Regions from separate parts of the Homo sapiens genome. Here region 1 is linked to region 2. Evidence: fine-mapped expression QTL. A gene starts in region 2. The other region holds a variant in brackets. All regions are shown on one strand. Distances are from middle to middle.

Evidence for each region.
Region 1: its variant is fine-mapped to the expression of F12 in liver (GTEx, PIP 0.93).

The regions. Positions count from the first base shown.
Region 1 is chr5:177,506,814-177,511,196 of GRCh38, forward strand. DOK3 (docking protein 3) reads right to left here and starts at 3,013. Exons shown (of 6, transcript NM_001308236.3): 1 at 2,945-3,013; 2 at 2,662-2,844; 3 at 1,424-1,729. The coding sequence starts at 2,727. RefSeq lists enhancers at 1,269-1,378, 1,399-1,448, 3,269-3,418 and a silencer at 2,999-3,138. The variant C/T (reference allele first, on the strand shown) is at 1,733.
Region 2 is chr5:177,407,630-177,412,012 of GRCh38, forward strand. It overlaps F12 (coagulation factor XII), which reads right to left and starts at 1,935. Exons shown (of 14, transcript NM_000505.4): 1 at 1,842-1,935; 2 at 1,417-1,474. The coding sequence starts at 1,898.

The DNA of each region.
Region 1 (4,383 bases), 99 kb after region 2:
CGAGTAGCTGGCATTACAGGCATGCACCACCATGCCCAGCTACTTCTGTATTTTTAGTAGAGACGGGGTTTCTCCATGTTGAGGCTGGTCTCGAACTTCTGACCTCAGGTGATCCGCCCGCCTCGGCCTCCCAAAGTGCTGGGATTATAGGCCTGAGCCACCGCACCCGGCCACCAGTGCTTTTTAGTATACTCACAAGGCTGTGCACTGTTGCCACTGTCTAGTTCCAGAACTTTTCCATCATCCCACATGGAAGCCCTGTACCCATGAGCAGCCACTCCCCACTTCTCCCTTCCTCCAGCTCCTGCCAACACTCATCTGATTTCTATCCCAATGGAGTTACCTTGTCTGTACATTTCTTTCTTTCTTCTTTTCTTTTTTTTTTTTGAGACAGGGTCTCACTATGTTGCCCAGGCTGATCTTGAATTCCTAGGCTCAAGCAATCCTCCTACCTCAGCCTCCCAAAGTGCTAAGATTACAGGCAAGAGCTACTGTGCCAGGCGTTTGTTTGTTTTTATGGCTGAGTAGTATTCCATCTTGCGGACGGACCACGTTTTGCTTATCCATTTGTCAGCTGATGGCCATGTAGGCTGTTTCCACCTTCTGGTGGCTGTGAGTAGTGCTGCTATGGACGTTCATGTCCATGTGGGTTTTTTTTTAAGATAGGGTCTTGCTCTGTCTCCCGGGCTGGAGTGAAGTGGCACGATTACAGCTCACTGCAGCCTCGACCTCTGGGGCTCATGCGATCCTCCTGCCTCACATGTACATGTTTTGTTTGAACACCTGTTCAAGTTCTCTTGGGCACACACCTAGGAGTGGACCTGTGGGCCACATGGTAACTCTGTTTACCTCTTTGAAGAACCCCCAGGCTCACTTCCTTTTGACCCATCACAGACCTTTTGGGGCTTTACAAACATGTCCGGCTTAAACCCTCCAAAGCCTTCGCCTCTCACTCAGAACAAAACCACACACATGGCCTAGGGCATTTCAGCCGCTCTCCTAAGCTCTGTGAGTTGGCTTCCTCCTGCACTCCTTTCCTTCCAGCCACGTCGCCTTCTTTCTGCCCTTAAACACCCCACACTGTCCGGCCTCGGGGCCTCTGCCCACGGGACTCCCTCTGTTCACAACTCCCCAGGCTGCCCCTGTCCTCAGACCTTTGCCCAGTGGGTTCCTGTCATTCAGGGCCCTCCTCTGAGAGGCCTTCCCTGGCCACCCTGCCCGTCGCTCCCTCACTTCCTCCTGCTCCCCTGGCGGTCCATTTTCTCCATGGCACGCACGGCCCTCTGAGAGTCATTATAGATTTACTTTTCCCAGGCTTGTAGGTGCTCGGTGGAGCTTGCTGGGTGATGGGATGTGAGCGTGGAGGTGGACAAGTCGGGGGCAGGTGCCCCAGCCCAATCGCCCCCCTGCTCGCCGCACTCACCGGGAAGGCCAGCTGGCAGATGGGGCCCATCCAGGCCTGGCGGTGCTGAGCAGCCAGTAGATGGCTTCGCTCGGTGGTGGTGAGCAGGAAGGCACCGGTGTCCCGGGGGCAGCTCTCGCCGTCAGCCGGCAGCACGGACACACAGTCAGCCAGGCGGATGACCCGTCGCTCCCCTCGCCGGCCAGGCCCTGCCGACCTGTCACCCGCTGCTCCCAGGCCACCATCCCGGACCTCCCAGCTCTCCAGCCGTGCCACGCCTGATGGGCCTCCTGCATACAGCAGAGCCCACACCTTCCGCCAGCACTTCTG[C/T]GGGAGGGGAGCGGGAGGGTGAAGACCCTTGGGTGGCAGATTGTCCGTGCCACTTGGCTCAGCACAAGCTGCTCGGCAAACGCTCCCAGCCAGGAGCGGGCCTCTGCTCCCCAGTTTCTCAGGGAGCCAGGTAAGGAGGCCTTGGCTATGCTTGGGATTGGTCAGCCCTGGGTTCAAATCCCAGCCCGCTCTTTCCTAACTGTGACCTCCACAAGCATCAATGTCGTCTCTCAAAAGGCCATGAGAACTCGAGCTGGGACTGCTACTGGGTCATGTTTGTAAAGCATCCAGTGGCCGGGCAGACCACCAGACACTGCCATTATATTGGTTCCCTCTCACCCCCAAAAAGGGGCACTTGGGCCACAGGCCAAGAGCTGGGGTGGGAGGGAGGCCTCTGCCTCAAGCTGTTAAGGAAGGAAACATGCAAATAGCTTCGAGCAAAGGAAACTGACGGTTTATCTGCCTGGGCAGCAGCTGCAGCTGAGCTGCGGGGGTGTGGGGCTGCTGCCGAGGAGAGGTGACCCCCTGCCTCCTTGCTCCCAGGACAGTGCCGCTGCAGGGAGGGGCTCCACCCTTGAGGCCTCCTCCAGCTCAGCCCCTCACCCTATTTAGGGCCCTCGGTGGCACTATTTCATGGGTCAGAGGCTGTGAAGCTCTTCCCTGCTGGGAGGTTTGAGCCTTCGACCCTCTCCCACTCCTGTATTTCCCATCTCTCCCGGAGGCAGGGTCTGGCAGAGCCTGCTCAGCCCCTGCCGTCTCAGGCTGACACCCGCACTCCATTCCACTCCCCATACCTGGGTGGGATCCTCCACCCTGACTCCCTTCCCAAGTCTCCCAGGTCTGCCTGGGCTGTCCGAGGCAGGGGCAGAGGCTGCATTCTCCACCCACTGTTGGTCCTTGGCAGCTGCCTGGCAGCCAGGGGTCCCCACCTTGCCAAACTTGACATGCTGCTGGTAGAGGATGCCATCCTTGATAGGGGTCTCCAGAGGGTCCATGGTCACGGCCAGGAGCAGGGCCGCCGCTTCAAGACCTGGGGAGACTGATGACAGGCTGGACGGGAACTCCTCACACTTCCCCTTCTGGCCACTTCCCGTCCCTCCGTCTAGAGACAGCTGCAGGCCGGGGGGAGGGGAGCCTGTCTTCAGCTCAGGGGCTGGGGGCAGCATGTATTTCCTCCCTGGGGTTCTGGCTGCCCAAGGTGCCCACACCTACCTGGAGGGAGCCCCCGGCCACCTGAAGGCAGCCTTCTCACGCACCTGGTTCAGCTGGGCACGCGCGTCTGATCGCAGTCTGGCTCCCCGAGTCATGAGTTCCCGCCCCTCCCCCGTCCCGCCCCGGGCAGCTGCGCACCCTGGGCCTGACACTCCCTGGCCCTGCCTCCACCCAGGACCCTTCTCTAGCCAACTCCTGGCTTTCCCACTCGGCGTCCTGGTTTGAGCGCCTCACCCCATCTTGCTGCTTTTCTTTCTCCCTGAAATCTCTCTCGTGTTCACCTGCTCCTCTCCACCTCACGAGCCACTGAACATCACCAGCCTTTGGCATCCCCCCAGGGGCCACTGCCCCACTGGGCCTCCATGCAGCACTCTCCACAACCCAAGACCAACCTGTCTCTCCCCTTCCTGGGGTGCAGCCCAGGCTCCTCAGCCCAACACTCAGGGACCTGTGTGTTCTGGCCTGCATCTCCCCCAGGCCAGCCCCTCCAGGGCCCCCTCACCACTGTGCTGCCTGGGGCGGTTGGCCACCTCTTCCTCCTGGAGGCCTCCCTTGACCACTCCACGCTGTCCGAGAGCTCAAAGGCCCTCACGGTATACACTCACGCTGGGCATCCAGTCCACATGGGACCCACAGCCCTGAATGGCCCCAACCACGTGAGTGTGGGTGGCAGGTCCCAGGGGGCCCCGGAGAGGTCACATGTTCATTTAAAGCTTTGCTTCCTGCTGGGGGCGCCTTTTGTTGGCTTGCCTAGCAAGATGCCAATAGCGGGGCTGTGTGTATACCTTTATTCTGGAACAGCCTCAGGTCATTCAGCACCACCTCTGGGAGAGAACATGGAAGAGGATAAGGAATGCCATTTGGGAATGCACTTGGCCAGGAAATATGTCCTGAAGGCCTCCTGGCACCCAGCTCTGTGCCCACTGTGGCCCAAGCAGCCCTAAGCTCCGTCCACCTCAGACGCCACATCCTTTGCGTTCTCATCGCCATTTCAACAGTGAGGAAATCGGTGCTCAGAAAAATTAAGTAACTTGCCCAATGCCACATATCAAGTGACAAATATGGCTTGAGCAACCGCTGTCTCACTGGAATGAGCATGTGGCCATACATGCAAAGTGCCTGGCTCAGAGGAAGTGTGGCCGCCTGTGCCGTCCCTGCCTACCTCTCACCAGATGCTGAGATCCTGCCTCATCTGCTAGCGGTCTTGTGACTGCCGTCCACGTTTCTGCGTGTGCGTCTTTCTCTCCCCTCGCCTGACGGCTTCCCAGGCAGCCATCTCCCTGGCCCATCTAGGTCCTCACAGCTCAGCAGAGCTGGGCACAGAGCAGGCTTAGGGAGAGCTTGTGGCCTAAATGGCAGTTCTATGACATCTGCTGCCTCCTCAGTCAACGGAATGGAGGGCTCCCTCCAGGTGGCTGGCACAGGCAGGCAGTGGGTGG
Region 2 (4,383 bases):
ACAAAAATTAGCTGAGCATGAAGTTGTGTGCCTGTAATCCCAGCAACTCGGGAGGCTGAGGCAGAGAATCGCTTGAACCCAGGAGGCGGAGGTTGCAATGAGCCAAGATCGCGCCATTGCACTCTAGCCTAGGGGACAGAGCGAGACTCCATCTCAAAAAAAAAAAAAGATGCAGATGGGATGGACGGACAGAGAGGAGGGGGACCTTAGGCAGGGGATTAGGCAAGGATAGGGCACCAAGTTTGGGTAAGGCAAGAGAGAGGAGAAACTTTTGGGTGTGGGGTGAAGAGAGGAGGCTGAGGGAGTCCAGGGTTGGAATGTGCTGGGCCTCAACGCCATGCTTAGAGACTCAACCCCACCAAGTCAGGCCCACCAGGGTAAGGTCCATCTGGTTCACAGGCCCTGCTATGTGCCACACTCTAGGTAAATTTTTTTTTTTTTTTTGAGACGGAGTCTTGCTGTGTTGCCCAAGCTGGAGTGCAATGGTGTGATCTTCGTTCACTGCAACCTTCACCTCCCAGGTTCAAGCAATTCTTCTGCCTCAGCCTCCCGAGTAGCTGGGACTACTGGCGCATGCCACCATGCCTGGCTAATTTTTGTACTTTTAGTAGAGACAGCATTTCACCATGTTGGCCAGGCTGGTCTCGAACTCCTGACCTCATGATCCACCGACCTTGGCCTCCCAAAGTGCTGGGATTACAGGCATGAGCCACCATGCCTGGCATGTAGGTAATTTAGTGTCTGGAAGAATGAAAGCAATGGGGAGCTATGGCAGAGCTTGAGGAAGGGGGAAATGGCAGGTACCCTTCATCTAAAAGGTAGTTTCATAATAAAAGCTAATATTTGTAAAGCATTTCCATGCACCAGGTGATGGGCTGAATACCTCACATGGGTTTCCCTTCTCAACAACCCTAAGAGGTTTACTGTTATCAACCTGGTTTCACAGAAGGGGAAATTGAAGCTTGGAGAACTCAAATCCCTCGCCCAGAGTCACCCAGCTCATAAGTGATAAAGCTGGGCTTCAGAGGCATTCAGATGCCAGAGACAAGCTCTTGATCCTTCCTTGCCCATTGAAGGCCCTGGCCTCTGTGTGGCATGAATGATGCCCATGAGACGTACTGGGGAAAGGAAAAGAAGGGGAGAAGCTGGGGAAACTGAGGAAGGCTGGCAGGAGCCCAGGTGTGATGGCGCCAGCAGCACATATCTCAAGCACCTGCTCCGAGCCAGGCTCGTGGGCACTTAGACACAGCCCATACCCTGCCCTCAAGGATCACACAGCTCACGATCACTCTAGTGCCCATGGGCATAAGACCTAGCACCAGGTAGGCACTAGACTAGACTGCCCTGAGACTGCACACACTGCACCATACACATCCCCACCCAAGGGTTCCCGGGAGGAGGAGCCAGGCCACTTACCGACTGTGTGCTCTTCAGCTTTGTACTTATGCTCCTTGGGGGCTTCCCAAGGTGGAATCTACAAGGGAGAGAAGAAGGCAGGGAACTGACTATAAGTCATAGCCTGCCACCGATCTGTTGCTAGTCTGCAGCTTCCTCTCACAGCCCAGAAATGCAGAGATTTCTTCCCAAGACCCAAACCCTTTCTACCTCCCCCCGTTGTCTTCTTAAGGCCCATCTCCCCCAGAAATGCAGGCTGTGCCCTTGTATCCACCCAGTCTGGTTGTCTGTCTCCTCTGCCTGGGCCTTCCGGGCTGGCCTCACCTTTCCACATAGGCCTCCTAGTCACCTGGACCCACAGGTCATGAGCAGAGGCCATGGCTCATGGCTGTGATAGCGACCCCCCAGAACAATCCTGGGACAATCCTGGTTCCCACAGCACTCACCGAAAGTGTTGACTCCAAGCTCACCAGCAGGAACCCCAGGAGCAGCAGAGCCCTCATGGCATCCGTCCGTTGGTCCAGCTGCCTATCCAGGAGTCCAGATCAATAGGACTGGCCAAAGGTCTTGGAAATAGAGATTGGTCAAGCTGCCCTCCTGAGCCTGGTGGGGCACAGGCTGTTTGTGGAAAGCCAAGTGGAGCAACTTCCTTGGTCACCCCTTGAGGGCCGGAAAGTTGGGAGTTTGTGGGTGGGGGTGAAATGAAGAGCTGGGCTCCTCCTCTCTTTTCTAGATAGTGGGACTGGAAGCAGAAGAAGGGACATTCTTATGCTCTGGGTCCTGTGGAGATCAGGAGGTTAAGGAGATCAAAGATCATGGGGATCTTGGAGTCCACTGTGAAGTGTGTTCATTTTCTATTGTCATGTAACAAACTACCATAAACTCAGCATCTTACAACAATACCCACTTTTAATTTTCTTTTTTTTTTTTTTTTTTTTGAGACGGAGTCTCGCTCTGTCGCCCAGGCTGGAGTGCAGTGGCGCAATCTCCGCTCACTGCAAGCTCCGCCTCCCGGGTTCACGCCATTCTCCTGCCTCAGCCTCCCGAGTAGCTGGGACTACAGGAGCCCACCACCACGCCCAGCTAATTTTTTGTCTTTTTAGTAGAGACGGGGTTTCACCATGTTAGCCAGGATGGTCTCGATCTCCTGACCTCGTGATCCACCCGCCTCGGCCTCCCAAAGTGCTGGGATTACAGGCCTGAGCCACTGCACCGGGCCATGTGTCGCCTTTTAAGAACTCACCTGACTAGGTCAGGCCCACCAAAGCCATTCTCCTTTTTTTTTTTTTTTTTGAGACAGAGTCTGGCTCTGTCACCCAGGCTGGAGTGCAGTGGCACGATCTTGGCTCACTGCAAGCTACGCCTCCCGGGTTCACGCCATTCTCCTGCCTCAGCCTCCTGGGTAGCTGGGAATACAGGCACCCGCCACCACGCCCAGCTAATTTTTTGTATTTTTAGTAGAGATGGGGTTTCACTGTGTTAGCCAGGATGGTCTCGATCTCCTGACCTCGTGATCTGCCCGCCTTGGCCTCCCAAAGTGCTGGGATTACAGGTATGAGCCACCATGCCTGGCCCTGCCATTCTCCTTATTTTAAGGTCAAACAATTTGGGACTTAAATTACATGTGCAAAATTCTTTCACAGAAGCATCTACATTCATGTTTGACAGAATAACTGGGAGGTGTGCAAACACCAGGGGTAGAGATCTTGGGGCCATCTTAGCATTCTACCAACCACAGGAAGTGAGGCAAGAAAGCAAATGATTTAATGAGAAAAGTGCTAAACCAAGGGGCACTAAGATGTGCAGCTGGAACATGAGAAGAAGACGGGGTGCACATGTGCTGCCCAGCATCTGTCCTGGTTCGGTAATGACACTTTGATTTTTCCTTTAGCAACGACTCCTCTCTTACTTCTTCCATGGGCTCTAGTGCTGCCAACTCTACCCTCAGAGCTAGGGCTAGAGATGTGGCCTAGGTCTGGTCAATCAGAGCATGACATCTCTAATCCACAGTGATTGGTTCAGAGATAAGCATATACACAATTTAGGCCAATTAAAGTGCTAGCTTGGGACTTTTGCCAGAACTTTTGGGAAAGCAAAAAAGTTGCACTGGGGTTACTAAGCACAGAGCATGTGGGTCTGAACACATTGATGATCACCTTTGTCACTCTCTAGGGAGGGCCTGTTTGAGAATGAAGCCTACACATAGGAAAAGCAAAGCAAACAGGGCAGGAAGGATGGAAAGATGCTGTGGTAGACAGCCTCAAAGACAGCCCCCATTGATCCTCACCACCTAGGATTCATGCCCTTGTATGGTGTCTTCCCACATTGAGTTAGGGCTGTTCTGTGTGTCCATCAGAATATGACAGAAGTGGCTGGGTGTGGTGGCTCACACCTGTAATCCCAGCACTTTGGGATGCCAAGGCAGGCAGATCACTCTAGGTCAGGAGTTCAAGACCGGCCTGGCCAACGTGTTGGCCAAACCCCATCTCTATGAAAAATACAAAAATTAGCCGGGCGTAGTGGCGTGTGCCTGTAATCCCAGCTACCCGTGAGGCTGAGGCAGGAGAATCGCTTGAACCCAGGAAGTGGAGGTTGTAGTGAGCAGAGATTGTGCCATTGCACTCCAGCCTGGGCGACAGGGACTGTCTCAAAAAAAAAAAAAATATGGCAGAAGTGAGGGTGTTGGACTTCCAAGCCCAGGTCATAAAAGACATTGCAGTTTCTGCCTCGGTCTCTTAGGTTGCTCACTCTGGAGGAAGCCAGCCACTGTGTTGTGAGGACACACATGCAGCCCTGCAGAGAAGCCCATGTAGGGAGAAAGGAAAGCACCCTGCTGACAGCCAGTGCCAATTGGACAGCCACATGAATAAGCTGCCTTGGAAGTGGATACTGCAGCCCTCGCTGACATTTGGCTTGCAATCTTATGAAAGACCTCAAGGCAAAACTGACCATCAGAAACTGTGATAAATCATCATTAAATGTTGTTGC